Linked DNA regions of Homo sapiens. The protein of the gene in region 2 purifies or fractionates together with the protein of the main gene of each other region. This does not show direct contact. Each region holds a gene or a part of one and is shown on either strand. Other genes may lie near its edges. The genes, in order: LAD1, AHI1, ALDH5A1, RRP1, COL18A1, OFD1 and BOP1.

Region 1 (4,867 bases), on a different chromosome or scaffold from region 2:
CAGAGGTTTGGGGAAACCCCGTGGCCCATGCAACATTGACCTTCAAGCCCCAGAGCCAGGCCCAGGGTGAAACCTACAGGCCCGAACAGCTGCGGAGGCTCAGCTGCTCCTACTAGCTGAGGCCACAGCCCCAGGCAGCTGCCTACCACTCCTTCCCTCTAGACAACCCTTTCCCCCACCTCCTGGCCTTCATCTGGGGACACATGTCCCTCTCGGTGTCTCCATGTAATGCTGCTATCCTCCTCCCCACTCCAGACTTCAACTCCATCCTTTGGGGATGGGGATCCTCTTTTTCTCTTAAATAATTCTAAAGGACATTCTGCCGTTACTCACTAGAGAGCTTGTTTTGACCTCTACCCTGGGAACTTTCTTCCTGAAGTCTAACTTCCATCTATTCTGCAGCAACTGATGGCAGGGATTTAAGTGAAGTGGTTGTTAAAAGTCATATTTAGCAGTACAAGCCATTTTCCCAAATTGAATCATAGACAGAAGCCCATTATACAACAGATTAAGGCTCAGCTGCCCTGCTTAAAGCTGGGAGAGGGTGAGAAGGCTGCCCCAGATGCATTTTGTGGAACCCTGGGGCTCAAGGAGCATAATTTGCAAATCTTGGGGACTGGGGTTAGGGAAGGGAGGACAGAGGAGGGTTGGGGGATCATGCCCATGACCTTGGCCAGTCTCCTGCACCTGAGCAGGGCAGGCCTTAAGTTCCCCTTCTGCATGGTCACTGTGGGGGGTAACTCAGGTCTCTTCCAGCCCCAAAGGTCTAGGGAGAGGTGTCTGGAGAACCCAGGGCAGCGATTGGAAGTAGGAGGGCGGCTCAAGGCCCAGGCAGGGAAATGATTAACCACTGGCTGTTCAGTCCCAGGCACTCTCAGATCCACCCCTCACCCCCTGCAGACAGGCCTGGCCCAGCCTCACTGGTCACCAGGCCAGTCCGGGGAGAAAAGGACAAGGCCTCTGACCAGGGCACCCAGCCAGCCAGCTCACCACTGCCCCCCCAATCCCAGGGTTGGAAGACTTGAATCTCTGCTCCATGCCAAGGATGGGCTGCAGGCTGGCCCCCAGCTACCCACCCACCTCTCCATCCACCTCCCCACCTGGGACCGTGCTGTCACACCCTAGCACGGTCCTCCCCAGCCCAGGAGGCTCTGTTGACAGTGACTCACAGCCCTTTCCTGCCTGCCCGCTGAGGCTTGTTCACCCAGGGAGCGGAGCGGGAGCGGTCCTCTGTTCCAGGTGCCTCATCAGGGTGACTGTTGGCAGCAGCTGCGTCTGCCCACAGGGCTCTATGAGGGCTGGGACCCGGCAGGGAGGGCAGGCCAGGGGCCCCTGTGGCAGGACTGTTCCCCAGAGCTTCCTGGCACTTACCCTGGACATCTTGTGGGAACTTGGCTGTAGCCACATGAGTCCATGTCCATCTGAGCAGTGGACAAGCTTAGGCCAGACCTTGCTCCCATTTTCAAAGTTCCAGTGCCCCAGCTGCCTCCCCACACACACACACCCCCCCATGCATATCCAGGCATGCTTTCAGACACAAAATCACATATATCCCACCAGACTATGAACTTCTGAAGAAGGAGTGTCTGGTTTGTATTTTTAACCCAATGCACAGTACTGAGGTCTTCAATAAACAGTTCAACTGAACATATGCAGACTGACAAACTCAAGACTCAGCAACATAAGAACCAGCTCCCCACACAGATGTGTCATCTCTTCATAGGCCATAAACACACTTGTCCACAAGTATGCCACACACACACACACACATAAGCATACATTCATAGGCACAGGTAGGCCCACATCTAGAAGCAAAGACACTCCCACATCAACCCCCAGGCACACTGACCCACATGCAAAGTCCAAGACCTTGACTCCTCAGCCGCACCCTCAGCATAGACCTTCCTCTATAGCAGCCTGGGTTTCTTTTCCAGAGCACTGAGTTCCCTCCATTCGTGGGGCTTACCTTTTCCCCTCTCTAGAGCCCATGGGCTGCCCACAGTGCTTCAGAGCACTGTGAGGTCTTGAGGGTCTGGGGAGGTGGCCCCCCAGTCCCAGGCGATGAGCTGCTATGGAGAGGCTAAGCCTGAGACAATGAGGTAGTTCTGGAGCCCTTATTAAGGGAGGGCAGGAGCGGGGTAGAGGACATACTAGAGCACTGGAAAAACCTGTGAAAGATGCCTTGCTGGGGAAAGCCTACAGGACCCAAATGGCTGGAGGGTCTGCACCTGGCAGAGATAGCCCTGGCTCAGGAAAGGCCAAGACCCAAATGCCCACCTGGGAGGAGCTAAGAGGCTAATATCTACCTGGCTAGAAAGGGATCAAAAGAGCAGGCTCCAGCTCTGGGCTACCGCAGGAGCCTCAGTTTCCTTAGGGACAAGATGGGGGACGGGGGCGCCCAGTGGAGGAATGAGGTGAAAATGCTCACAGGGGGCCTTCTTGGCAGAGGTGCAGGGTCGCTCCAAGAGAAGTCGCTAGAGGTCACCAATCTCCATGAGGGGTGCTGCCTTCTGAACACCCGCCTTCCCCAGGCCTCTCGGACCCTGATGGGATGTCCAGCAGGCAGGGGTAGGATGCCTCATCCCCGACCCTTTAGGAGACCAGTGTACAAGTAAAGATTGCAGCAGCACAGATGGGGATGGCAACTATCTTAAGGTTCCCAGCCCAGATGCCACCCCAAAATGCCATGCTGAGATTCTGAGCGTCCTTAGTGGGAGACGGGTCTGCTTCCCTCCAGTCCTCTTCACTGACCCCTCCAAGACGGCTCTCCCTGCTCCCCCTCCCAAGAGGGGCTGTGGGACACCTCCCAGGGGTCCTCTCCGCCAGAGACACACGGGGGCAGTGAGAGAGGCTTCTCTCAGGAATGAGGCTTGGAGGTTACTCCTGAACACCTCCACAATCCCCCAAAACGTTCCTTCCTGCTTCCACCTTCCACAGGGGGGGCCATATCCCAGCGGGCGTCCAGACTGAGGACCAGCCTTCCCCTAAGCACCCTGTGTGGGGCCTCAGGCCCCGAGGGGAGAAGACCCACCCTGTAACCTCAGGGGTCCCGAGTTTGGCCCCAATCCTGTCTCCCGCGAGTCGCAGCAAGACCAGGATCCAGCCTCAGTGTCAGGGTCCCAGGCGGGGAGGAGGCCGGTGCCCCGAGGAGAGGAGACCCAAAGGCTCCCCGCCGACCCCCCGCCCCTCCCGGCTCCCTCCGGCGCTCACCTGGACAGCGCGGACCAGTCCTTCCTGCTGACAGCCATGCTGCAGGAGCCCCGCGTGGCCGCCCGCGCCCCGCCGGCCGCCGCCTCACCTGGCGCCCCTCCCCTTCCAGCCCAGGTGGGATCACATGGCCGCTTATCTCACCCCCGCGCGCCCCGGCCGCGCTCCGATTTGCCGACCCGGGAATGGCCTCTGGGATGTGGGCGTCCCAGACAAAGCCGCATTGATTGCAGCCCAGGCCGGCCCGGCCGCGAGGCCGCAAGCACTGGGTGGACCGTCGGACGGATCGCGGGACCGAACGACGGACGCCCGGGGCCGGCGTGGGGCTGGTCGGCTGCCCGGGGCGAGGGCGGGAGACTTCCTGCTCAGAACCAGTCCGACCAGCTTGGCGCTGGGACGCCTCCCCGCGCTGTGCCGCGGCCCGGGGTGCCGAGGAGCTGGGCTGGGGGCGGGGACCCCTGCCGGGAACCCGACTTAGCCCGGAGACGCTCAAGAGCAAGAAGCCGAGCGGAAAAGTTAGCGCAGGTACTGTGATCTCGGGTCTAGAGCGCCCGCGCCTTCGGGGCCCCTTCGCAGGGAGCGCCCTCCCCACTCCCTGGCTTCGGAACCCACCCGGGCCCACCGTCCCAGTAGGCCTCGCTGAGATGAATGAGGCATTGCTTTCTGAGCTGCACACAAAACATGCCCCTGGTAGACCCAGCCCCACCCAAAGGGAGAATCTTAGACTCAATTCAGCAAACATTTGTGAAAGCACAAATATGTCAAAGGCACTGTCCTTGCTCCCTGATACTGGACTTTGGGCTAGAGTGGCAGGGTGTATAATAAGGGCAGAGGAAGCTCAGTTTTTCTTCCCCAAGGAAAGATTAAACACAGATATCTAGGACTCGAATTTTGGAGCACCGTGAGACAGCTCAGGCACCCCTGACACCACCTGGCTCCCTTTAGGTGCCCATCTGGGCTGGTGCGGGGCCAGGTGCTTTCTATCCAGGAACCAGCCTCAGGTGGGCTTGGGCTAAGAGAGGGTCAGGCGTTGAGCATGGGGAATCTTATCTTCCCTGATGGATCTGAACTGCAGGGTCAGCGCACAGTTGCTGTTCCTGCCCTGAGAGGAAGGAGGCACAGCCCCAGCGCCAGGATGAGAATATCAAAAGGGAGCCTGAGCCAGAGCCAGAACTGCCCTCATGCTCCTGGGCCTCGCTGCCCAGCCTCAGCCTCTCTTTGGTGCTCATGTCAGGCCTTCCAGCTCTGAGATCTCACGGCAAAGGGCAAGCTAGCTGCCGGGCAGAAGCCTGGAAACACAGACACAGCCAGCCTGTTGAGATTCCCCCTCCCGAAGTACCCCCTCCTCCAGGGAGCCTTCCTTCTTGGCAAGGGTGGGACGAGGTCCAGGACATGAGAACTGGACTGGTAACTTGCACACTTGAGCTCTGATTCTGACATTTGTGAACTGTGTGACTTGGGACAAACTCCTTCAGTTTCCTTATCTGTGGAGTGGATGTTACGATACCTTGCTCTGCTTCCTTCCAGGTTGTGGAAATCATATGAGTTCCCTGCTAGTGACATTGGAGTGCACAGATGAATATCGACAAGGCTCCAGGGAGTTCTGAACAGAGGCCAAGGCAGGCCCTGGAGCTGTATGCTGCTTACAGGAAAAGAGAAA
Region 2 (4,409 bases):
GGTTAACACCAGCCAGGTGAGGAATTAGAGGAAGCTTGCCTCAGAAACAGCTTCATGTGGGAAGGAGCTTGCTGTGACGGAGGAGCTAAAGGAAGGGTATTATAGCTAGAACATAGGCATCTAAGGGGATATTTGTCTTGATTTGAAGCCCTGGAGATAGATCAGGAGGTATGGAGCCCTGTAGGGCATATAAAAGACTTATTTTATCCTAAATGTATTGGGAAATTTTCAGGGGCTTAAGCATTATCTTCTTCATGTTTTAAAGGAAAAACCTGTTAATATTTGTGGAATACTGATTACAGGCTAGGCACACCTTAGCCATTTTTCATGCAAAATGATCTTTGGCATAAGATAATTGTGATTTTACAGATAAGGAAAATGAAGTTTAGAGATCTTGAGTAACTTGTCTAAAGCCACATAACACGTAACTAACAGTGGTAGATGCTACTGTTTATCAGAAATAAAAAGTTAACTTAGCAAAGGAGACTTTTAGAGTGAGTGGCCAAAAAGGTCAGAGGGATACAGGTGAATGTTGTGTCACTAAAGTCAAAATAAAAAATATTTTAAGAAGGAAAGATAGGTGAGTTTTTCTAATGTAGCTAGAGAACTCATGCCGATATTTACAAGAACTTATTTCTTAACATCCTAGTAGTGTAGGTTGTGTGTTATGATAGAGTCATTTACAAAATCACATGGCTGTATCTTTTGTAGCTGAGAGTGAAGCAAAAGTAAAAACCAAAGTTCGCTTTGAAGAATTGCTTAAGACCCACAGTGATCTAATGCGTGAAAAGAAAAAACTGAAGAAAAAACTTGTCAGGTCTGAAGAAAACATCTCAGTAAGTAAATGATCATTGGGTAATAGTGATTTACATATGCGCATAAAATGCAGATATGGCTGCATTTTATGTTAAAATTCTAAGGAATTTTGAAAATTAAAAACAGTAACACTATGTCATGGTCAATAACATGTGGTAAAAATAAAGTTTATATTAGAATCAACATCACTGTGAGAATATTGACTTCATTCTTGAGTGCTGTCCTACAGGAAGAACACACACACAGTGGGGAAAATGACCAGAGATAGTGGGGAAACTCAAAACTAGCCATGATAACATTTTTGAAGAAAATATTTTTAACCCAGAATTGTGAAGAACTTAGGAAGTAGTATCTTAACTTCAGATATTGAATAGCTTGTGCTTATTTAAACTATTTCTGTGTGATTCTACCCAACAGAACCAGGAGAAATCAATGGCCGTATGGTAATAATTATCCTTTTATGTTTGAGGCACACTTTCAAATGATAGAATCTTTGGCAGCACACTTGAAGGAATTAAAAATACAGTGCTCAAAGACTAAGCAAATCAGCAACTAACTACAACCTGATCCCCTTGGAATCATAAAGAGTCTGTATTGGCATCCACAGTTAATGCTCTATGCCCTCTTTATACCTATCTCCCTACTTGAGTTGCACTTTTTACTACTTTGACCATTATCTCTTCTGTCCTCACAGAAAAAAATAAACAGGCTCTTGTGTAAATGGTACATAGTTTTTTTTTTTTTTTTGGCAGGAGTTTTATAATGAGTTATAATCCTACATTTTGCTTGTAGTAAGATTTACCCCATTTTTTCTTAAGACCTGTTCATTTTAGTATTCTGTCTGGCAGATGTCAATGTAACAATATAAATTCTGAAGTGAGGCAAAAACAAGTAGTAAAATTGACCAAAATCCAGCTGCACATATGTGAGGGTTCATAGTGTATACACTGGTGTACGACTGCACAAAAATTTCGAACTACTGACAGAATGGACAGATTAGCACTCCCATAGTGATTGCTGCTCTGAAATAGCATGTGCTTTTTCTGGTGGTACTAGTGCACAATATGGTAGGGAATAGTGACATGGAGGATGAAACATTGCTTATTGATATATGCGCTCCCCTCAGATGGAGTGGTTTATGTTGGGCAAAAGCAAAAAGAACCCTGGAAACAGTTGTCTGCAGAGATGTTTTATGCTCAGAGAAGAACCTCATATTGTCTCTTAGTATTAAAGAACTGGGAGTTGTGAGCCATGAACAAAATGCAATTTAGACCAAGGTTTAAATTAAATGGATAATCAGAATAGGCAGAGGCTATGTCCATTTACCTAAGGTCCAGTTTAAATGTTGAGGGGCACATAAGTGTGAGGTGACTAAGCATAATTTATCCAGCCTCTCTTTGCAAACACCAGGACTGAATAGGCTTCTTTTCTTTCAGAAATAAGTACACTAGGAACAAATATTTGGGAAGATATTTCGCAGCTCAAAAGAACAGGAATATTTCTAAAGGACTTAGAGGAGAACAAAATATTTTTGACATGATTAACTTGAGGAAGTAAAAGAGGAATAGCTGCTTTCATTTGCTAGATGCCTTAATGCTTTCTATCTTTAGGCACTCTTCTAAACACTTTATATATATTTAGTCGTTTAATACAAACGACGAAATTACAGGGTTTTATTTCTGTACAGGAGAAAACTACATCAGAAGTTAAGTAACTTGCTGAAAGTTACATAGTAAATGGTAGAACCAGGATTCAAACACTGAGTGGAAGTGCAGAATCCACTGCCTTAACCACAACCCAATATTATCTATTTTAATGAAATTTGAAAAGATAGGACTTCTTCTTGAAAGAAGAACAGGGAGTCCTATGTACAGAACAGGCTGAGATGAGAAATGGAGCAGTCTGAAATAAAATTAAGCGAGGAAAAAAGTCAAAATAGGGATTCATAATAATGGCAGGTTCATCTTATATTCCAGTTATATATAAGGCACAATAATAAGAGTTTTACAAATATTATTTCTAAATCTCATGTTAATCATGCAAGATAGATATTGGGATTCTTTTTTTGCACATGAGAAATTTTATAAACAGACAAACAGACATGTTAGGTGATTTCCTTAGGTCATTTAGTCTAAAATAGGATAAGTGGGATTTAAGACCACAGTCTCTGCAATTTTAAAGTTCATGTTCTTCAGTTGCTTCCTTAAAACTATATCTCAGGCCTAAAATGATGGAATTGACACTACGGAAAAATCTAATCAGTGAAGTGGGAGACAAATTCGAGGTGGGAAGAAATGACCAAAACTAAAATGAAAGAAATAAATGATGAGGACATAGAAAGATATTTGACCCACAAATAAGTATCCCGGGACAGTACTAGTGGAGCAGAAACAATAATGAGCATGATGAAGAAACCTTGCTGAGATTTCTGAAGAGATGAGTCATCCTGCATTCCAGGCAAAATTTATGAGATGAGAACTATATCTAGAAAATTCTTTTGTTTGTATCTTAAGAGTCAAATATTGCAGACACCTAAACACAAAAACATATAGTACATTTGAGACTTCTCTGTAAAAACACTAAATCCAAAAGACAATGGAGAAATATTTAGAGCACTAAGAGAAAAATTGTAGCCTGAGGAATCTGGTCACCTAAGTTGTCAGTCATTTGTGATGGTAGTTGTAAACATATGTGCATTATTAGAGAAATATCAGTGTTCCCTCCCTGGAAAAAAAAAAAGATTTAAGATTTATTAAAGATGTAGTACCATTTCTAGATATGAATCAAAGTTAAGAATTTAAGAATAGAACATCTTAAGATCTTAGAGGAAGGGATGAAGAGAAGTTGGTTAAGGAGTACAAAAATATAGTTAGAAGGAATAAGTTCTAGTAGTCAGTATTACAGTAGGGAAATTACAGTTAATAATTTATTGTATATTTCAAAATAGCCAGAAGAGAAGATTTATGTTCCCAACATAAAAGATAAATGCTTGGAGTAATGGGTATCTCAGATGCTCTGATTTGATTATTATACACTGTATATGGTGTCAGAATATCACATGTACCCCCAAAATATGTACAACTATTATGTATCAGTTAAAAATTTTTTTGATGGGAAATTTATGATCCAAAAATACCATTGGATGAACTTTGAAATCAGTTAAATATGTAGAACTTTCTTAATTATTATATATGTCCAGAATAATTCCTGAAGATTTTACATTAGATATATGTATATGATAATGTGAGAGAACAGAACCAAATTGTTTTCAAAGATTGAGCAAAGCATCCTAGCTTAGGAAGAAAAAGTCACGTAACCATTACTCTTGTCCCTAGCGTATAGTTAAAAGTTATTATTTCATCCTAGAGTTTGAAATAAATAAAACAAGTATATATATAAAATAGATTATTACACTTTCTAAGTTGTCAGAGTTAAAAAAATTAAGTGAGTTTTTTTAAAAGAATGTAATGAAATAAGAAATTTAAGTAAGAGCAAACTGAGTCATGACAATAAATGTAAATAGTTTAAGCTTCCTATTTTAAAAAGTGGGTTCAAAAATAGACTTTTAAAATATCAGGACCAGGCATGGTAGC
Region 3 (3,279 bases), about 110 Mb from region 2:
TTTATCTAATGAGAGTTTTTACAGCTCATCATTCAAATAACGCACAAAAAACAAAAGCCGCTATGACCGGCGTTGCCTCTCACTTTGAAAGAAAGACTCCGTAATCTTAAACAGATGCAAATCCAATTAGGCGGCCAAGTAGGTGGAGACGAAGCACCTTCCTTTCCCCATCTCTGTCTGTGTAGACTCCACTTACATCTTGTGGTTATTCTGGGTTGTGGAAGGAAAATGTGAATGAAAGTAGTGCTGGATGCAATTACTCCTGAACCCCACCTAGGATTTAACATCCCTCATTGAGCCACTGGGAAGCTATGGTTGAGTAACTAAAGGTCTGGCAAGACCCTGGGCACACAGGGAGCTGCCTAGCATCTGGCCTGGAGTGTACTAGCCACATTCCCAAGGTCCCAAGGAGAAGGAAGAGCTGAAATTCATCTCCTAGTGACAGTGCCCCGGCCCTGTCAAGAATCACATACTCAGCATTTTGACAGTTAATGTCTTCTCTTTATTTGTGTAGTTTTTAGGTGGTTTTATATAACATTTTAATTACTTGTGATTTAGATGTATCCATCCTTTTTCTATTAAGAATACAAATGCTGGGCTGGGCACAGTGGCTCACGCCTGTAATCCCAACACCTTGGGAGGCCAAGGCAGGCAGATCACGACATCAGGAGATCGAGACCATCCTGGCTAACACGGTGAAACCCCGTCTCTACTAAAAATACAAAAAAAATTAGTCGGATGTGGTGGCAGGTGCCTGTAGTCCCAGCTACTCTGGAGGCTGAGGCAGGAGAATGGCGTGAACCCAGGAGGCGGAGCTTGCAGTGAGCAGAGATCACGCCACTGCACTCCAGCCTGGATGACAGAGCGAGACTCCGCCTCAAAAAAAGAATACAAATGCTCCAACATTATTTTTTATAACTCTGGATTACCGATGCTGAGATGTGTGCAGGAATACTTCCAAATAAATTTTTAACATTGTAAGCCAGTAGATTCTTTGGCTGGGTGGCAAATTTTGAGTCTTCTTGCATATTTGGCTCATGGGTTCATAAATTGAGGCCAGAGACTCATTGTATATCCTTGATCAATTTTCTAATTAAAGGAAATAGCTTATTGTTTAGTAAAATGGCCCTTGGTTGTGGGAAGAAAGAGAATTATTTTTAACTGAACGTTTTTGTTGTTTTTTAAATAAAGTAGCCATATGTAACGGGATTTTAAAAATATATACATTTTACAACATGGACTAGAAAAGGACCATTAGATCAGGGGTTGGCAAACTATGGCCCACGAATCAAACCTGGCCTGCCACCTGTTTTTATACAACCTGTGAGCTAAGAATGGTTTATATGTTTTCAAATGATTGGGCAGAAAATCAAAAGAAGAACAATATTTCATGACACCTGAAAATTCTATGAAATTCAGATTTCAGTGTCCATAAACAAAATGTTATTAGAGCATAGCCACACCCATTCATTTATGGTATTGTCTGGGACTGCTTTCTTGGCAGAGTTGAATAGTTGGGACAGGGACAGTATAGCCTGCAAAGCCTAAAAGATTTACTACTTGTCTCCTTAAAGAAAAAGTTTGCCAGCTCCTGATCTAGACCAAGAGGGAGATATTGACCTTACTTGCATTTATCCGGCATTATTTCAACACCTCCTGTGAAGAAAGTACTTTTCTGGCATAGCTACCGTGAGTTCTCAGCAGGAACTTCCCAGCGATGATAATGTACATGAAATTAGCCACGTAACAAGAGTCTATTTGCCTTGAAAAAACAATTATCCTTGAACTTCCTCCAGCTATGCAGGGATTCTCATTAAAGAGCTGATCTGCATCTGTTTATCCATTTTAGTAGCTTTTAAATATGATTTTATGTGAAGTGCCATTTCTTTATTCTACTAAAGAGAGACAGCAGAAATAAAGATCAGAAGCAAATGTGAGCAAATCTGTTTTACTGTTAACTTCAATTATGAACTTGAAATTGTGCCACATGACTTTTTCCTCTAAAAACTGGATCCTAGTGTTTTAATTACCTGTGTGCAGCTATTTTAAATAGCATTTTACTTGAATAATATGTATGTTGTCATTGTTTCATGCTATACTTTGTGGGATAAAACTTGGGAATGAGTGTGGTAAGAAATTTATAAAGTTTTGCTTTTAAAACGTGGACATAACTCATTTTTCTAGTTTTTGACAATTGTGTGTTTTAGTGTCTAGTCTGCAGAGAGCTGTGTGATTAATAAACGTGGAATTAACAGAATTTCCTCTCCCTGTATTAAGGTGTCTGGTTGTGCTTTTTTCCCCCTACTTGGTGATCTTTTGAGTTTTTATTGGATGATATTAGACCAGTTTGCATTTGTGTAAATAGCACTCCCTCCCCCAGAGAGCCGTAATCAGTGAGTGCCTTGGGGAAGGAGCCAGCATGTGAAATGATGTGCCCTAAAACCCAGAGAAGGGCCTGTCCATGGTGTGCGCTTATAGAATGTTTGCTAAGCTGAACTGAGAATTTACCTGGTTTGCAGAGGTGGCGGTCACAGAAAGGTGTATAGGCCAGCCGTCACAGATTGGCCTATCTCTCTCTCCTACACGCCCCACTGTTATGACTTCCTGGGCTCAAACAAGCCTCTCACCTCTGCCTCCTGAGTAGCTGGGACCACAGGCACCTGCTACCACACTCAGTTAATTTTTCTTTCATTTTTTGAACAGTCAGGGTCTCACTGTGTTGCCCAGACTGGTCTCAAACTCCTGGGTTCAAGCCACCCTCCCGCCTCAGCCTCCCAAAGTGCTGGGATTATGGGAGTGCACCATTGTAGCCAGCCCTCACCATAATTTAGAACACAGACAGCACTGCTGCCCAGTGGTTAGTGGACATTTTTGCAAATGTCGTCTCACATTTTACAATCACGTATTGCTCGACAACAGAGATATATTCTGAGAAATGCGTCATTAGGCAGTTTCGTCCTTGTACGAACACTGTAGAGTACTTACACAAACCTGGATGGTACAGCCTCCTACACAGCTAGGCTATACGGTCTAGCCTATTGCTCCTAGGGCTACAAACCTGCACAGCATGCTACTGTACTAAATACTGTAGGCAGTTGTAAGACAATGGCAAGTATTTATGTATATAAACATAGAAAAGGTACAGTAAAAATCAAGTATAAAAGATTTAAAAATTACACTTGTAAAAGGCACTTACCGTGAATGGAGCTTGCAGAACTGGAAGTTGCTCTGGGTGAGTCAGTGAGTGACAGTGAATGTGAAGGCCTAAGGTATGACTGC
Region 4 (4,409 bases), on a different chromosome or scaffold from region 2:
CATGTTCCGCTTCATTAGCAATGCTTTTTGTTTTTTTGAAATAGGTGTCACTGTTGCCTAGGCTGGAGTGCAGTGGCGTGATCTTGGCTCAACTACAGCCTTGACCTCCCGGGCTCAAGTGATCCTCCTGCCTCAGCCGCCCAACTGGCTGGGACTGCAGATGTGCACCACCAGGCCCACGTAATTTTTGTATCTTTTTTTGGTAGAGACGAGTTCTGTCCTGTTGCCCAGGCTTGTCTCAAACTCTTGGGCTCAAACAATCTGCCTGCCTAGGCCTCCCAAGTTGTAAGCAATGTTAATTGCTCCTAATTCTAAAAATATGTAAATTGGCTGGGCGCGGTGGCTCACATCTGTAATCCCAGCACTTTGGGAGGCCGAGGCGGGCAGATCACAAGGTCAAGAGATCGAGACCATCCTGGCCACCATGGTGAAACCGTGTCTCTACTAAAAGTACAAAAATTAGATAAATGCATAGAAAAGAATTAGCAGGCTGGTTATGGTGGGTTAAGGGGATCTCTTGAGCCCAGGAGTTTGAGGCTGCAGTGATCTGTGACTGAGCCACTGCACTCTAGCCTAGGTGATAGAGTGAGATTCTGGTTTTTTGTTTTTTTTTTTTAAAGAATCAGCAGGAATTGAACTGTGGCTGCTGAGTTTCTCTAGGTTTGAGTTGCATGGGTGATTTTGCATTTAGGGCAGCGGTGCCTCTGGTTTGGAGGGATTTTCATTCTTCTATTCCCTGGCAGGACTCTGATGCCAGGAGTCTCATTCATTCTGGGCCTTAGCATTGTGGATTACCCCATAGGGGTCTCATGGCTTAAGCTGAATTAAATGTTAAAGGGATGATTTTACTTGTGTTAACTTTTTTTGGCATATTATTACAAGAGTACTTTTCTCCCTGTAACTGAGAATTCAGCACAGGAATCATGTGGAAGACCTCGGTGCCTTCCCCCAATGCCTGCTGCGGTCCCAGTGCTGACAGTGGGGTCCGCTCTTCCCGCCCTCTTGGATCTCCTGCAGGCATAACCAGGCTGTCATTAATATCCACGCCATTGCCACTGGCCTGGGAAGTCGGTCCCTTGCATCTGTGTGTCTTCCTCTTGGTCTCAGCACCTGTTCTTGCCTCTGTCTCGTTTTTCCTGAGCCTTAGAGAGCATCACTTTTCCTTTCCATCACGAGTGATTCTCCAGCCTTGCTACGGAGCTTCCTAAGGATCACACAGTTTACAGATCTGAGTTAGGCAGCTGCGTTATTAAGCACCCCAGGAGGTCCAGATGCATGTAGGTGCTACACATTATTCTCTGGGGCTGTCTAGTCTTCAGATCCAGGGCCTGTGATGCCATCAAACCCGCCTGCCAGGGAGAGCTCTGGTGGACGTCACAGTTGGAATGCGTCGTGCGGCAGGGCCCAGGAAGCCAGCAGGTGGCTCATGGTCCTCGGCCCCTTTCTGGGCCTCCACCTTCCTTTCTCTGCCTGTGCTGTCCTGACGTGTCTTCCCCAGCGGTACCCAGTGGAGGCAGTGGAGAGGAACACCAGGCAGGGCGTCTCGTCTCAGCCAAGCCTTTCTCTCTGCTAGCAATCTTGAGGACAGAGGGAAGGCCTGTCTGAATGTTTACACGTGCTGCATTTTGTAGCTGACATGCACACTCAGGCCATACGTTCTGGTGGTGGTGCTGGTCACATAACTCCCTAACTGCAAGACTGCCTTGCGCTGGAGGAGACCTAGGATCGTTGATATCATCTGCGTGGACTTTAAGGCTGGCATGTTTGCAGACAGTGGCGCCTGCCCGCACTTAGGTTCCCATCAGAGCGTGTAACCATGGGAGAGTGGGGGGCACGGCTGTCTTGGGGCTCATCGAGGCTGCCTGTCATGTTTGCTTTTTCTTTCCTCAGACAGATCGAGGAGCTGCTAGAGCTGCTGATGACTGAGATCCTGCACCCCAGCAGCCAGGCCCCCAACGGTGTGAAGAGCCACTTCATCGAGATCTTCCTGGAGGAGCTGACCAAAGTGGGCGCCGAGGAGGTGAGGCTGGGCTCCGACGGGGCGGTGGAGCTGGGCGTTTGTGGAGGAGGAACTGAGCTCCCGCTGGCTTTCCCCGTAGCTTACGGCAGACCAGAACCTGAAGTTCATCGACCCCTTCTGCAGAATTGCTGCCCGGACCAAGGAGTAAGTGGTGGGTGGCCTGATCGGGCCCGACTCCTTCACTGAGTTCTTCCATGGGGCTGCTGTTGTGGGGGTGCTGCTCCCTCGAGGGATGAATCTGTCTCAGAGTGGCCGCTGGCCGTGTGGGTGGGGAGAGGTTGCAGGGGAGTCGGCGGCTTCCGCTTGGGAATCCAGCATAACGGGCCTGCTCACCGGCCTCTGCTCTGCCCCTCAGTTCCTTGGTTTTGAACAACATCACTCGAGGCATCTTTGAGACGATTGTGGAGCAGGCCCCGCTTGCCATTGAAGACCTCCTGAATGAACTGGACACACAGGATGAGGAGGTGGCGTCGGACAGTGATGAGTCCTCTGAGGGTGGTGAGCGTGGAGACGCGCTGTCCCAGAAGAGGTCTGAGAAGCCGCCCGCAGGTGGGGGTCACACTGCGCCTGGCTTCTCCTCGGGGCCTGTCCTGGGCTGAGCCAGTGCGATCTCCTGCTGGGTTGCTCCTGCCACCTCCTACCTGGTCCCCTTGTCTCTGCCCCTCTCCACAGTCCATCCTCAGCATAGAAGCCAGAGTGACTTCTGTGGGCACCAAGCACACGTCGTTTCCCCTCATCCCCCAGCCTCTGATGTGCTCCACGCCCTCTCCGGACCCCTGGGCTCCTCGGTCTAACGCATGCCTCTGGCTCAGTTGGCCCCCTAGACTCGTTCCTGCCTTGGTGCCGAGTCTCTCCGTCCCTCCCACCGTCTCTCCCCCCATCACTCTCTGGGGCTGGACTCTTTCAGCCTCCTGGCCTCTCCCAGCCCCCAACGCAGTCCTCCCCATAGCGTCACTCTGTGGCACGGGATGTGAATCACTTGCTCCTCGTGTTCCTCGTTCCTGGCCCGTCTCCCCAGAGGACAGCAAGCTCTGTCCATATTGACCATGACTGGGTTCAGGCCTGAGACCTCAGGGCACCTGACTGCTCTGTGTGCAGTGTGTGTGAGGGGCAGGTGTACTCACCTGCCCCTCACTGCCTGCCAGAGGCCTCTGTGGGCAGCCGTGGGGTCCAGCCTGGCCCATTTTTTGTTTTGATGCTGCACTCATTGTCCGAGCCTGCTGGGTGGTCTGAGCTCTAAGTGTGGCATCCTGGTGCTGTGGAGGGCATGTCTTTGACCACGCTCAGGACCCCAGTATGCCCCAAATCAGTGCTGTGGCCACTGTTCCCCTTGGCTTCCTAATCAGAAGACCCCCTCCCCACCGCCCCCAGCACTTGGCCCGGCCACCCTGTATGCTTCTCCCTGGTCTCTGCCTTGCCCTTCTCTCTCAGTAGCTGAGGTGCCTGGCAGGTCCGCTAGTGCCTGCTGCTGGCCCCCTGCTGCCAGCTACAGAGCAGACCCTTGTCACATGCTGCCCCACAGCTGCCTGTTGCCCAAAAACCTTTCTTCTGCAGACAGTGCCATCAAAGCCCCAAATGCCCAGCCTAGCTCGAGCACCCAGCCGAAACATCAGCTCCCACAGCTTCTGGACCAGGCCACCCTGAGGCTCCTCACTTCCAGAACTTTTGACATGGCCTTTGTTGCCCAAGATGCCAGCTTGTAGTCAGCCACTCAGGGCTGTGTAGGCACCTGTGCCCTGGGACATCTTTTTTTCCTTTGCAGGCCTGAGGTGGCACCTCTCATCCTGTCCATACGAGATTAGAGGTCACATGGCACCTAGTATCTGCCTTGAGCTGTGGGCTTTCCCGCCTGTGCCCATGTTCTGACCAGGGTGCAGGGTGGGCTGTCCGTTCCCGGGTGTTTCCCGCCTGTGCCCGTGCTCCGACCAGGGTGCACGGAGCGGGCTCTCCATTCCTGGATGTTTGGGGCCAGCACACGTTGGGCACAGGTAGGGTTCACGGGGTCCCTTTTGTTCCAGGCTCCATCTGCAGGGCTGAACCTGAGGCTGGTGAGGAGCAGGCAGGTGACGACAGGGACAGTGGCGGCCCCGTTCTCCAGGTGGGTTCCCTGGGCTCATGGCTGTGCCCTCAGCCTTTGCCCCTCTGTGCTACCGCTTGCTCTGGAAGAGGAGGGGGGCGTTAGGAGGGAGGATGGCAGCTGTTGGCATGGAGAGTTACCCGGACAGGGGTTAGCTTTGAAGGAGGGATGGGTGCCCCAACCCTGCCCGCCTGTAGACGAGTGGGATCATTGAGAGTGGGGCTGGGGCCTGGGAAAGTGGGGCTGGGGCCTGGGAGGGTGGGCTCAGGCAGAACTGCATTATCCAGGGCTGGCCTCACCTCACGCTGTCCT
Region 5 (4,409 bases), on a different chromosome or scaffold from region 2:
TGGGCCTGTGGCGAAGTCCCAGCCCTGCAGCTGCCAGTGCAGGGTGTTATCCAGGGGCAGGACATCGTCTGCAGTGGCTCTGCCTTCCCCGATGCCAGGTGACCCCATGGAGCCAGTGTCTGTGACCTCTTCCATGCTGGGGCTAAAGAGGCCAGCAGGATTGGGGGCTGGCATTAGTGGAGAACCTCAGAGCCCAGGGCTGTGGGCTGATGGGTGGCGAGGCCCCCGCCAGCTGCTTGGGGATAGCCCAGCCACTGTTCTTGGTCCACCCGGCCTTTGATTCCTTTTTCCTGTGTGCATTTTTGAGCACCTTCTGTGTGCGAGAGGCCGTGCCTGCCCGAGAAGAGAAGGAAACACCACAATGAGCCTCGGACACCCACAGTCTGAAGGGCCCGGAGTAAGCCTCAGACGCCCACAGTCTGGAGGGCCCGGCGCTGTGAACGAGCAGTCACAGGGAACAGCGTGCCCTTATCGCTGACACAGGCTCTGGAGGGCCCGGCGCTGTGAGTGAGCAGTCATAGGGAACAGTGCACCCTTATCGCTGACACAGGCGAGGGCTTCGTCTTCTCACAGCTCTTATCTTGGGTGTCACCCCAGCCAGAGTCAGGGCTGATGGCGGGGGGTGGGGGGGGGGCAGGCTGTGGTCAGGGACCTGCAGGAGAGGGGAGGGCCTCGCTTCTGATGGGCGACGTTCATTTACACACAGCTCTGCGGCCCAAACGGCCAGGCTGGATCCTGTCTTTTAAAAACCTTGCTAATTTGGTTGATGGAAAATATCATCTCAGAGTTCTGTTTTGTGAGTCCCCATTGCCATGCGGGCAAACATTTTCATCCACTAAGGGGCCGTCGTGTTTCTCTGGGAACGTGGCGTTCACCGTGTGGGTGAACTTTTTCACGCACTAAGGGGCCGTCGTGCTTCTCTGGGAATGCCGGGTTTGTGGCTCGTGCCCACTGCCCTGCAGGTGCATTCTCTTTCCCCGTAGCTTTTTGTCTGTTGATGCTTTCAGCTCTGGATGTCCTATTTTGCGTACTTTTATTGTTTATGGTCAGCCTTTAACTGGGGGTATGATATTTCTTTAACTGGGGGTATATTTCTTTTTTTTTTTTTTTTCGAGATGGAGTCTGGCTCTGTTGCCCAGGCTGGAGTGCAGTGGCGTGATCTTGGCGCCCTGCAACCTCCATCTTCCGGGCTCAAGCGATTCTCCTGCCTCAGCCTCCTGAGTAGCTGGGACTACAGGTGTGGGCCACCACGCCTGGCTAATTTTTTTTTTTTTTTTAAAGTAGAGACGGGGTTTTGCCATGTTGGCCAGGCTGGTCTCAAACTCCTGACCTCAGGTGGTCCACCTGCCTCGGCCTCCCAAAGTGCTGGGATTCCAGGCGTGTGCCACTGTGCCCAGCCATGGGGTATATTTCTTAATGTGTGGAGTTGTTTTTCCTCATTTTTCTGGTCCCTTTAGAGATGGCACCCTGGAGTGGCCAGCAGAGCTCAGGGGCCTGCGGCCCAGGCACACAGACAATGGAGCTGGCCCTGCCACTTTGCTCATCTGTGGTGCAGGTCTGCTGAGGGGCCGTGAGGGTCCTGCAAGTGAAGGTGCTTGAGGCCTCAGTGCCTGTGGGGAGGCCACGTGGCACCTGTCAGCTGTTAGCGTCTTGACTCTGCCTTTGTGGATATGGAATTAGAGATGCTTCTCACAGTAGTGGCTAAACTGTCAGGAAGCCTGGCCGTCATCTATGGTCCTCTTTGCCCTCATGGGTGGGATGCCGCCTAGTGTGATGGCTGAGAGCTCAGGCTGTGACCCTGAGTGTGTGTGGCCACGGGCAGGCTGCTCACCCTCTCCGTGTCTTGGTCTCTAATCTGTGCCTGGGGATGGTGGAGCGTCATGGGGCCATACAGGAAGGATGGGACATCACACATCGGCTTCCTGGGGTGTGTCCTGCTGACAGCCCTCTGAGGCCAGCCGGTCCTGAGGCTCTAGGGGGGACGCCACAGTGGAGAGAGGGCTCCATCCCCACCCTTAGGGCAGAGCCCCGTAGGAGGGACTGGTTTGCAACGTGAGTAAAATGGGTCCCCGTGAGCAGACACAGCTTTTGTGCTGCTTCTTACTGAGCCCCGCGCTGTGCCTGCTGAACTGAAAGATGTGTATTAGAGAGGGCAGCCATTCCCACCTCCTCCAGCCGCGCTACGTGTCCGCAGGCCAGGGCGCCTGCACCATGACAGGCTTCAACGCCCCTGTCGCGGGGACCCAGGGAACACCTGTCTCCTCCACTTGCTGGATTTGTGACTGGGCGGCAAACATTTTCTAAAGTCTCCCGCTACGACCCCTCGGCTGTCAGGAGACTTCTGAGAAAGCCGGGCCTCTTTTGCCCCAGCGAGGAGCTTTCTTGTGAAGAGGCAGTTCCCGGAGGGAGGCGTCTGTGCTTTGTAAAGTTTAGCCTCATGTGCTGCCTCTGAGGAGGAGTTCAGAGAACATCCGCTTCCTTTCTGTTATCATCTCAGCCTTCCAGCCAGAAAGAAGGAAGCGTCCATGGATCCCGTCCACGCTAACCTTGGGGTCCCTCTGCCAGCCCTGCACATCCTTGTCCCTGGGCACTGAGGGAAGCAAAGGCCCCGCCAGCCATGCCCAGCACTTGTGCCTGGGCCTTTGCAGAGGCTAGAGGCAGGGTAGAGGATGGAGAGGGTTTAAAAGGCAGGTTCCCAGGAAATTCCCTAGGTGTGGGATTGGAGGGGTGCTGAGGGAGGTGGCGGACCCTCAGGGGCAGGAGCCTTATGGAGTGAGCTGGTCCATGGAGCTGGGAGGCGTCTTCTAGTATAAATTCTCATTTCAGCTAAACAGCTTGCCCTCTCCAAGCCCGTGTGCACCTGAACCATCTCTGCTCTCTGAGCCTTGGTCCCTTGGAGGAGCAGGAGGAGGTGGAGGAGGAGGATCGGGAGGAGGAGGGGGAGGCCCTTTCTGTATTGGATGCACCGCCTGGCCCCAGGCCCTCCTGCCCAGCCTTGTGGCTCTGGCCGTCAATCAGCTCCCTTCTCCTGGCTTTGCTGCTGCCCTGCCTCTTGCTAGGAGGCCATGGTGTGCCTGTGCCTGGCAGGCAGTGTTGCTGCTGACCTCTCATCTGTTTTGGGTCCCCAAATCTCAGCCCTGTCTCCCTTTCGGGGGCACATCTTGATGCGGGGTCTCTGATCCCCTCGGGGCAGCAGGACATCCCTGTTTTCCAGCTGAAATGAGACTTCACCCCCAAAGGAATGGGCTCCAGTCCGACCTACTCAGGTTGTTAGTCACACGTTTCTATTGTGAAAATGACTGAGAATGTTGTGGGAGGTTTGGAAACCAGGAAGACCACCTGTCCCAATTCAGCCTTTCCTGTCATCACAGGGGACGTCTGGCATTTTAACAGACCTGGGCGGCCTCCTGCAGACAAGGCTCGGACCCTGCGGCCGACTCTGCCCCAGGCCTGGCCCCTGCTGATGGCCATGCTCCGGGCATGTGGCCTGAGGGCCTCACGGACAGCCAGCCTCCCAGACCAGAAAACAGCCCTGCCCGCCAGTGAGAGGGCAGACAGATGGACACTAATGTCCCCGAACCTAAGAAACAAAACCCAAAACCCTCATTTATGCTTCCACTTCCGATCACACGCATAGAAGGCCGAATACTGACCCCGAGCTGACCACCCCGGCCTGTGGGACCCGTGAGTATGGCCTGTGTGTGGGATGAGGCTCAGGATCAGGTGCAGATGACCCTGGATTATCAGGTGGGCCCCACGTCATTACGAGGGTCCTTATAGAGAAGGGGCAGGACAGGGAGAGGAGGGGATGATGGAGATGGAGCCGCTGGGGAGGGCATGAGAAGACCAGGAAGTGGGTTCCCCCTGGAGCCTCCAGAGGACCCCTGCGGGCACCGTGACTTCTGACTTCCAGTCTCCTGAGCTCTGAGGGATGCCTGTGTTGCTTTAAGACACTGACTGACTTGTCCCAGCAGCCAGAGGTGACAGTGCGGCGTGGTGTTGGTTCACCGAAGGGGTGGCATTAGTGACCATGGGAATAAGGGCCTCTCACCTGCGAAGGGCCACTCTGTGGGGCAGGAAGTCTTGGATGTGTGCCGGCTTCAGCAGGACCCTCAAGGCTGCTGGGGGTCAGAATACGAGCACTTCCTGCACACCCAGGGCCACCCCAGGCTGCAGGCTTTGTGGAGACTTAAAGATGAGTCCTCGGCCTTCGGAATCTCCTGACTCAATGGAACCTCTGGTCTTCAGGTCCCCAGGATGACCTCCCAACAGGCCCAGGGCAGCAGCCAGGAGCTGGACACCCAGGGCTCAGAGCTCAGGACCGGCTGCCACGGGTGGGGCAGGAGGAGGGGCAGGACCATGCGCAGGGGCGGCGGAGCGGGGCTGTGAATGGAGCCCCCCTTCCGGAA
Region 6 (4,409 bases), on a different chromosome or scaffold from region 2:
CTTGGGAGGCTGAGGCAGGAGAATCGCTTGAACCAGAGAGGCGAAGGTTGCGGTGAGCCAAGATAGCGCCACTGCACTCCAGCCTGGGTGACAGAGCTGGACTCCATCTCAAAAAAAAAAAAAAAATCTATGTAGTTACTATAGATACATTATCCTTAAAAGTAGTTTTTCCATGGCCGGGCGCAGTGGCTCACGCCTGTAATCCCAGCACTTTGGGAGGCTGAGGCGGGCGGATCACGAGGTCGGGAGAGCAAGACCATCCTGGCCAACATGGTGAAACCCCGTCTCTACTAAAATACAAAAAAAAGTTAGCCAGGCCTGGTGGCGTGCACCTGTAGTCCCAGCTATTTGGGAGGCTGAGGCAGGGGAATCGCTTGAACCCAGGAGGCAGAGGTTACAGTGAGCCAAGATCACGCCACTGCGCTCCAGCCTAGCGACAGAGCAAGACTCCGTCTCAAAAAAAAAAAAATAGTTTTTACACAGTCTCTTTAAATGCATCTGGTTCAGAAAGACATCTGGCCGACAGCCCTTACCAGCTTCACCTAGCATCCCAGTAAAATTTCTGGAAGCCAGAAAAACTATGAGTAGCAGATAGGTCAGGCATCCTAGTGCCAAAATTTGGATAGAACTCTTAGCTAACAAAATAGCTCCTGGTAAGATAAAATTTTTTTAAAAATTGGTGTCTTCTAATTAAGTAACAGAAAACATGTAGGAAGATATTGTGTACTTAACCGTTGTCTGTCCCCTGACTCAGACCTATGGTCTTATCCTACCATATCTATGCTCAGGGGGTGCTAAGCTGTTGAATGGCCTTGGTACTTTTCCTCCTAGATTCTAGTCACCCATTCTTCCCACTGCTAATTTTCCTTTCAGAGATAATGATATCTGTTATGCGTGTCTGTGTGAAGAGACCACCAAACAGGCTTTGTGTGAGGAACAAGGCTGTTTATTCACTTGGGTGCAAGTGGGTTGAGTCCGAAAAGAGAGTCAGTGAAGGGAGATAGGAGAGGGGCAGCTTTATAGGGCTTGAGTAGGCAGTGGAAAGTTACAGTTAAAGGTGGTTATTTATTGTTAGCAGGGGAGGGGGTCCCAAGGTGCATGGTGGAGAGATCTTGGGACTCATTGTCCAGAAGAAGAATGTCACAAGGTCGATTGATCAGTTGGGGCAGGGCAGAACAAGTCATAATGGTGGAATGTCGTAAGGTTGGTCAGTCAGTTAAGGCAGGAGCTGTTTCACTTCTGTGGTTTTTTAGCTGGCTCCTGCAGGCCATCTGGACGTATATATGCAGGTTACGGGGGTTACAATGGCTGAGCTTCGGCTCAGAGGCCTGACAATATCCAGAAAATGATGTGCACAAAATTTGGATGAGGGAAGAAAATTTGGACATCGGCCCTTTGCTTTTTGGAAGTAAAAATTCTTATCTGCAATTGGCAAAAGAATAAGACATATACATCAATGGGGACAGAATTAGGAAGTCCAGAAATACATCCACACAAATATAGTCAATTGATTTTTTTTTTAACAAAGGTGCAAAGGCAATTCAATAGAGGAAAGATAGTCTTTTCAACAAGTGGTGCTGTAACAGTTGGATATTCATATGCGCAAAAATGAACCTAGACACAGATCTTATTTATTATACCTTACACAAAAACTAACTCAAAATGAACCATAGACCTAAATGTAAAATGCAAAACTATAAAACTTCCAGATGAGAACAGTAGAAAGTCTGTGATCTTGGGTTTCGTGATGAGATGTAACACCAAGAGCAAGATACATGAAAGAAAAAAGTAGATCAGTTAGACTTTATTAAAATTAAAAACATCTCTGTGAAAGACACTGTTCTTTTTGTTTTGTTTTTGAGACGGAGTTTCACTCTGCCACCCAGGCTGGAGTGCAGTGGCGTGACCTCGGCTCACTGCAGCCTCTGCCTCCTGGGTTCAAGTGATTCTCCTGTCTCAGCCTCCTGAGTAGCTGGAACTACAGGCGCCTGCCACCACGCCTGGCTAATTTTTTTGTGTTTTCAATAGAGATGGGGTTCACCATGTTGATCAGGCTGGTCTCGATCCCCTGACCTCAGGTGATCGCCTGCCTCAGCCTCCCAGAGTGCTGGGATGACAAGCGTGAGCCACTGTACCCTGCCAAAAGACGCTGTTAAGAGAATGAAAGACCCAGTGTCGAAACCCATAGAGCTTTACGTCATCAAGAGTGAACCTTAATGTTTGCAAATTTAGGTCAGGTGATCCCAGGATGGTATGCAGACTGTGACAAAATCTAATCCCCTTCCTGAAGGGAGTGGGGGTGGGGGAAAAGGTGCTGAGCTAACTACTGTTTTTAGTTCCAAGAAACTAAACATTTCTTAAGTAATTTATGCTTGTGGTTTAAAACAGTTTCAAACTATTCAGAAGGATATAAAGTGAAAGCAAAGTAGCAGTTTCTGCCCATGTTCTCTAATCTCACGCTCCACTGATAACTAGAATTAACAGTTTCACTCCACTGATAACTAGAATTAACAGTTTCTTGTTTATCTTCTAGAATTGTTTGAGGTTAAAACTATGTATTTGTAATTAAAACACAATCAATTGGGATTATATCGTAGATACTGTATGCAATTTGCTTTTTTTAATCCACCAATGTATCTTTCTGTAGCAGTATAGACTAATTATTTTTAAATAATGTATTTAACCCCCTATTGATGGAGATCTGGTTGTTTTATTGTTTGCTTTTTGCCATTACAGGTAACCTATGTGCAGTGTGCACCCTTTGTGCCCTTGTGAAAGTATACCTGTGTAAATTCATAGAAGTGGAATGACTAGATTAAAGGGCACATGCATTTCGAATATATATAAGCACTGACAAATTTCTCTTCCAAGTGAATGAGTATAGCTATATATCCACTCCCTTGCCAACACTTAGCATTATACAAGTTTTAATCTTAGCAGTGTTATAGGGAAAATAATGGTTTCTCTGTTGTATTAATTTGCATTTATGATTTTGTTCATGTTTATTCAGCATCTAAAAATTGTGTTCATCTTTGACAATGTAGTTTTTTCTGCAAACTACCCATGTTTTTCCCCATTTTTCTGATTTTTTTTTTTTAAACTGATTTGTAAGAGTTCTTTGATGTTATGAAAATGTCATCACTTTAGTCTTGGTTATGCCTCCATATTATTGCAACTATTTTTCCCAGTGTGTTATTTTTTTATTTTATGCCATATGTAAGTTTTCAGTTTTTATGTAGTTAGATTGATAAATATTTCTCCTTATTCCTTCCAGGTTCTGTATCATGCTTGGGAAGGCCTTTTCTCAGATTTATTAAAAGATATGACTGGGCACAGTGGCTCATGCTTGTGATCCCAGCACTTTGGGAGGCCCAGGCAGGAGGATTGCTTGAGGCCATGAGTTTGAGACTAGCCTGGGCAACATAGCAAGACCCTGTTTATACAAAAAGTAAAATTAGCTGGGCGTGGTGGGTGGTGGTGTGCACCTCTAGTCCCAGCTACTTGGGAGACTGATGTAGGAGGATTGCTTGAGCCCAGGAGGTCGAGGCCGCAGTGAGCCATGATTACACCACTGCACTCCAGCCTGGGTGACAGAGCAAGACTTTTGTCTCTAAAAAAAAGGAAAGATATATAATGTAAAAAATGATAATGTCCTAAAACTAAGATTGTAAAAACAGTGACTGAGCAGTGGTTGAAAGTTCTGAAACAAAACTGTATGCATATGTTTTTTAGGTTTTCTTATGCATTTTTTAAAAGAATTGGCAGAATATCATCAAGCTAAAGAGAGTTGTAATATGGAAACTCAGACAAGTTCGACATTTAACAGAGATTCTCTGGGTAATTATAGCCTTCTTTCTTAATTTCAGTTCTGCTGTTTTCATTTTGAATGAAGGAAATTATCTGATTTACCATATTGTGTGATTGCTCCTTGAACTGGAGGGATGCAGCCGGCAGGCAACAAGGGAATTCATTTCTGGAATCATCTTGGGGGACCAGGAAGTGCTCTCCAGTGTCATTCCCTAGCCTCATGAATGCCAGGGCTACACTGGCCAAATCATGCAGGGATTCAAAGGCCCATATTCTTCCTTGTTTGTTGAGTTTGACTTCTCTTAACTGGGAGGTTCTTCCTCGTGTCTTGTCTAACTTTACAGCCACCCAGTTAGAAGATTATAAACTACTTGCTTTGCAAAGTACTAGAGAAGTCAGTGACTTATCACTTCATTTTATAGTTGAGGAAACCGAGGTCCTCAGAGGAAGAGCAACTTGGAAACACTCAGTCTGCATCAGAACTAATAGTGGAGTCCAAGTTCTCCCATCCATGATCTGGAGCTTTTTGTACTATCCAGCTGGTCTGCAGTACCATCCTGTCTGTCAGTTTCGTGCTCAGTAGAGATGGGAAATAGCTGTTT
Region 7 (4,409 bases), on a different chromosome or scaffold from region 2:
CTCCCCAGGCCGCCTAGCCCTTGGTGGGTATACCCGGCCCCGATGGTGCTGTGAAGAAGGGGCTGTGTGACTGGCATGGGAGGGAGCTGCGGCTTTTGTTCATCTCTGCCATCCTGGCAGCGATGTGGCTGATGGGTCACCTTCAGAGAGCCTCCTCCATAAATCTGATTCCAAGTGTGTGCCCCAAACCAACCCAGACCGGCCCGGGGCGTCCTGCGGAGAGCCCCACAGTGGGAGGCCCTTGTAGCGGGGAGCCCGGTGACTGCTGGGGGTCAGCTGCTGGCGGCCCCTGTGGAGACCTGGCGACCTGCCAAGGGCTCCGGACCTGCCTGGGTGGACCCAGGGTGGGCGTGCTTCTGGCTGCAGGGCCGGGCCACAGGCTTCCCTCTGGCTTTCTGCCCTCAGGCCTTTAGCATTGACATGCACACGACCCTGCCTCCTTTCTAAGGACTGTGTAGAATTACGTGGCATTCAGTGAGCAGCTGCACGTGGTGTTCTAGGGCACCTTTGGATGCTCAGGTGCTCCTGAGGGGTGTGCCAGGGAACGAGTCTCCTACCCTTCCCTCCTGGCTCCTGTTGCTGCATCCAGGCAACTACTGTTTCCAGTGCTGAAGTCTCTTTCCAGGATGTTCTAGACATATCCAAACTCGCACAGAGTTTTTGAATGGTGGTTTCTTAAGAGAAGGGGCAGCCGTGCGCTGTCTCAGGATGGTTCTGTCAGGGAGGCCATGGCTCTGGTTTGTACAGTGCTTGGTGCCCGTAGAGTGCCTGGCAGCTCGGCCTCAACAGCTCCAGTGGGTGGGCAGTTGCAGGCTTTTGCTCTTACAGTTGACCTGACAGTAACATGCTGTTTCTCACATGTGCACACCATTCTTGGGGAAAATTCCAAGAGAATTTCTAGGTCAAAGGATAAATGCTTTTTTTTGTTTGAGACAGGGTCTCACTCTGTCACTCAGGCTGGAGGGCAGTGGTGCGATGTTGGCTCACCAAAATCTCAACTTCCTGGGCTCAAGGGATCCTCCTACCTCAGCCTCCCTGGTAGCTGGGACTACAGGGTCCCCGCCACCATGCCTGGCTAGTTTTGTTTTGTTTTGTTTTGTTTTGTTTTTTGAGACAGAGTCTCGCTCTGTCGCCCAGGCTGGAGTACGGTGGTGCAATCTCGGCTCACTGCAACCTCCACCTCCTGGGTTCAAGTGATTCTCCCGCCTCAGCCTCCTGAGTAGCCGGGATTACAGGCGCCCGTCATCACGCCCGGCTAATGTCTGTATTTTTAGGAGAGACGGGTTTCACCATGTTGGCTGAGCTGGTCTCGAACTCCTGACCTCAGGTAATCCACCTGTCTTGGCCTCCTGAAGTGCTGGGATGACAGGCGTGAGCCGCCGCACCTGGCCATCAATGCATTTAATTGTGAAGGTGCTTGGAGCGTCCCTCCGCTAGGCGGTGATGCCATGCACTACTGCAGCCGCCCCTCAGCTGCTTTCCCACCACCAGCCTCCCTCATGGTGTTGCTGCTTCATCTTTTCCTCTTGTTTAGTGATGTTTTTCTTTCATTAAGAATGAGGCTCGCACAGCTGGGCTTAACTGAAAAAATAAAAATAAAAAGAATGAGTCACAGGCTGGGCCCAGTGGCTCACACCTGTAATCCCAGCACTTTGGGAGGCCAAGGCAGGTGGATCTCTTGAGCCCAGGAGTTCAAGACCAGCCTGTGCCATATAATGAGACCCCATTTTTACAGAAAATTTAAAAAATGAGCCAGGCATGGCGGTGCGTGCCCGTGGTCCCAGTCCCGGAAGCCCTTCTGTCTCTTCCCTGTGGCGGCATCATCCATGCACTTAGCTGGCTGGAAACCCTCATGGCTGTTGCCCAAGGGCAGGACAGCTAGCTGGTTCTTGTCATTTTGGTCTGAGCTCCCTGGGCCAGGAGCCCTTTGCTGTTTTCTCTCTGTTTGTTTGTTTTGTTATCTGGCACCACAACAAACTGCCCCAAACCATGGAGCCTTTCTTTTTTTTTTTTTTTTTTTTTTTTGAGATGGAGTTTTTTTGCTCTTATCGCCCAGGCTGGAGTGCAGTGGCACAATCTCGGCTCACTGCAACTTCTGCCTCCTGGGTTCAAGCGATTCTCGTGCCTCAACCTCCTGAGTAGCTGGGATTACAGATGCCAGCCACCACGCTCGGGTAATTTTTTTTTTTTTTGTATTTTTAGTAGAGAGGGAGTGTCACCATGTTGGCCAGGCTGGTCTTGAACTCCTGACCTCAGGTAATCCACCTGCCTTGGCCTCCCAAAGTGCTGGGATTACAGGCGTGAGCCACCGCACCTGGCCACCATAGTGCCTTTCAACAACGAGCATTTGCTGTCTGTGTTTCTGGGGTCAGGAGTCCTGGTGTTTTGTGAGGTGCACTCAAGGAGCAGGGTCTGGCTGTGCCCTTTGCAGCTCCTCCCCTGACTGTTGGCATGAGGAGCTCAGGAGTGAAGGTGAAGAAGGGTACTCTGTGTCTGGGGGGTGGTCAGAGGATAGGGATGAGGACAGGGACAGGGCCCAAGAAGATGGGGTGGGTGCTGTACCTCCCCCTTCCTTCCCTGGGGTATCTGTGGGCCACGGCAGGGCCCACAGCTGTTGCTAGTAGCCTCCTTGGGGCCAGTGGGTTTGATTTATTTTTGTGTTTGTGTGGTTTGAGGGCAGGCATCCCTTCCCCACCCTTTGCGTCCCTGCTACAGTGACCCCTCTTTCTGGGTCCACCTGCTCTGGCACGAGCTTGGTGGGCCAGCCTCACCCCAGGGCCCACCCCATCTCCAGCCTCCCTGCCTTGGGCCTGGCAGTCCTGCCTCTTAATTGCGTTCTGTGCCACCTGATGACCCACGAGTTCTGTCTCCTGGCCTGGTTCCTACTCCCTGGGACTTTCTGCAGCCCCTGCCCTTCCAGCTGTTGACTGTGTCTGCGAGCCATCCCACTGGAGGGGCGCCCTGGGCTGTGTGCTCCCTGCCCTGCAGCACCCCTGACACGGGTGCTCCCAGCCCTCCACTGACCAGCCAGGGAGGAAGCTGCCTCCTGCCGGCCTGTGCCTCGCTTCCTGTCCCCTCTCCAGCAGCACACGGCAGCGCGGGCCGCGGGCTCACCGGAGCGAGGACTGGTTGCAGGGCCTTCTCTTTATCGCTGGTGTCTAGTGGATCTGTGGGGTCCGTGCGCTCAGAGCTGTTTTTTCCTTTCTGTGCTCATTTAGATTCATTTTTTTCCCAGCTTTGCTTGGTTTTGTCTTTTCATTTATGTGAGTTTTTCTTTTTATTATTTTGTGCAGAAGTTTCTGTTTTTATCAGTTAATCTGCTTGTCACAGTCAAGAATGTGAGAAAAGACTGGATGCGGTGAGCCAAACCTGTAATCCCAGCACTTTGGGAGGCCAAGGTGGGCGGATCACTTGAGGAGTTCGAGACCAGCCCGGCCAACATGGTGAAACCTCATGTGAATTGCTTGAGCCTGGGAGGCGGAAGTTAGAGTAAGCTGAGATCATGCCACTGCCTCCATCCTGGGTGACAGAGTGAGTGGGACTCTGTCTTGAAAGAAAAAAGCACTAGTAAGAGAAGGCCTAAGACCTAGTATTAAAGTAAGAGAAGGCCTAAGACCTGGTATTAAAGTGAGAGAAGGCCAAAGACCTGGTATGAAAGTGAGGGAAGGCCGAAGACCTGGTATTAAACTGAGGGAAGGCCGAAGACCTGGTATTAAACTGAGGGAAGGCCAAAGACCTGGTATGAAAGTGAGAGAAGGCCGAAGACCTGGTATTAAACTGAGAGAAGGCCAAAGACCTGGTATGAAAGTGAGAGAAGGCCGAAGACCTGGTATTAAACTGAGGGAAGGCCGAAGACCTGGTATTAAACTGAGGGAAGGCCGAAGACCTGGTATTAAACTGAGAGAAGGCCAAAGACCTGGTATGAAAGTGAGGGAAGGCCGAAGACCTGGTATTAAACTGAGGGAAGGCCGAAGACCTGGTATTAAACTGAGGGAAGGCCGAAGACCTGGTATTAAACTGAGAGAAGGCCAAAGACCTGGTATGAAAGTGAGGGAAGGCCGAAGACCTGGTATTAAACTGAGAGAAGGCCTAAGACCTGGTATTAAACTGAGAGAAGGCCGAAGACCTGGTATTAAAGTGAGAGAAGGCCGAAGACCTGGTATGAAAGTGAGAGAAGGCCTAAGACCTGGTATTAAAGTGAGAGAAGGCCGAAGACCTGGTATGAAAGTGAGAGAAGGCCGAAGACCTGGTATTAAAGTGAGAGAAGGCCAAAGACCTGGTATTAAACTGAGAGAAGGCCTAAGACCTGGTATGAAAGTGAGAGAAGGCCGAAGACCTGGTATTAAAGTGATGATTCCAGATTTTTTTTTTTTTCTGAGACAAGAGTCTGTCTGTCACCCGGGCTGGAG

The links.
Region 1: the proteins of AHI1 (region 2) and LAD1 purify together in Homo sapiens (affinity purification with mass spectrometry; one large-scale study listed by BioGRID and IntAct). This does not show direct contact.
Region 3: the proteins of AHI1 (region 2) and ALDH5A1 purify together in Homo sapiens (affinity purification with mass spectrometry; one large-scale study listed by BioGRID and IntAct). This does not show direct contact.
Region 4: the proteins of AHI1 (region 2) and RRP1 purify together in Homo sapiens (affinity purification with mass spectrometry, with the first as the bait; one large-scale study listed by BioGRID). This does not show direct contact.
Region 5: the proteins of AHI1 (region 2) and COL18A1 purify together in Homo sapiens (co-immunoprecipitation; one study listed by IntAct). This does not show direct contact.
Region 6: the proteins of AHI1 (region 2) and OFD1 purify together in Homo sapiens (affinity purification with western blotting; one large-scale study listed by BioGRID and IntAct). This does not show direct contact.
Region 7: the proteins of AHI1 (region 2) and BOP1 purify together in Homo sapiens (affinity purification with mass spectrometry, with the first as the bait; one large-scale study listed by BioGRID). This does not show direct contact.

What each region holds. Positions count from the first base shown.
Region 1 is NC_000001.11:201,396,059-201,400,925, forward strand, and holds the start of LAD1 (ladinin-1), read right to left. Parts: upstream 3,267-4,867; 5' UTR 3,249-3,266; coding exon 3,211-3,248; intron 1-3,210. UniProt on the Homo sapiens protein: Anchoring filament protein which is a component of the basement membrane zone.
Region 2 is NC_000006.12:135,487,050-135,491,458, reverse strand, and holds part of AHI1 (jouberin), read left to right. Parts: intron 1-711; coding exon 712-836; intron 837-4,409. UniProt on the Homo sapiens protein: Involved in vesicle trafficking and required for ciliogenesis, formation of primary non-motile cilium, and recruitment of RAB8A to the basal body of primary cilium.
Region 3 is NC_000006.12:24,534,936-24,538,214, forward strand, and holds the end of ALDH5A1 (succinate-semialdehyde dehydrogenase, mitochondrial isoform 2 precursor), read left to right. Parts: 3' UTR 1-2,272; downstream 2,273-3,279. UniProt on the Homo sapiens protein: Catalyzes one step in the degradation of the inhibitory neurotransmitter gamma-aminobutyric acid (GABA).
Region 4 is NC_000021.9:43,795,532-43,799,940, forward strand, and holds part of RRP1 (ribosomal RNA processing protein 1 homolog A), read left to right. Parts: intron 1-1,890; coding exon 1,891-2,020; intron 2,021-2,099; coding exon 2,100-2,164; intron 2,165-2,375; coding exon 2,376-2,569; intron 2,570-4,038; coding exon 4,039-4,118; intron 4,119-4,409. UniProt on the Homo sapiens protein: Plays a critical role in the generation of 28S rRNA.
Region 5 is NC_000021.9:45,411,143-45,415,551, forward strand, and holds part of COL18A1 (collagen alpha-1(XVIII) chain isoform 4 preproprotein), read left to right. Parts: intron 1-4,409. UniProt on the Homo sapiens protein: Probably plays a major role in determining the retinal structure as well as in the closure of the neural tube.
Region 6 is NC_000023.11:13,740,683-13,745,091, forward strand, and holds part of OFD1 (centriole and centriolar satellite protein OFD1), read left to right. Parts: intron 1-3,732; coding exon 3,733-3,837; intron 3,838-4,409. UniProt on the Homo sapiens protein: Component of the centrioles controlling mother and daughter centrioles length. Recruits to the centriole IFT88 and centriole distal appendage-specific proteins including CEP164. Involved in the biogenesis of the cilium, a centriole-associated function.
Region 7 is NC_000008.11:144,280,818-144,285,226, reverse strand, and holds part of BOP1 (ribosome biogenesis protein BOP1), read left to right. Parts: intron 1-4,409. UniProt on the Homo sapiens protein: Component of the PeBoW complex, which is required for maturation of 28S and 5.8S ribosomal RNAs and formation of the 60S ribosome.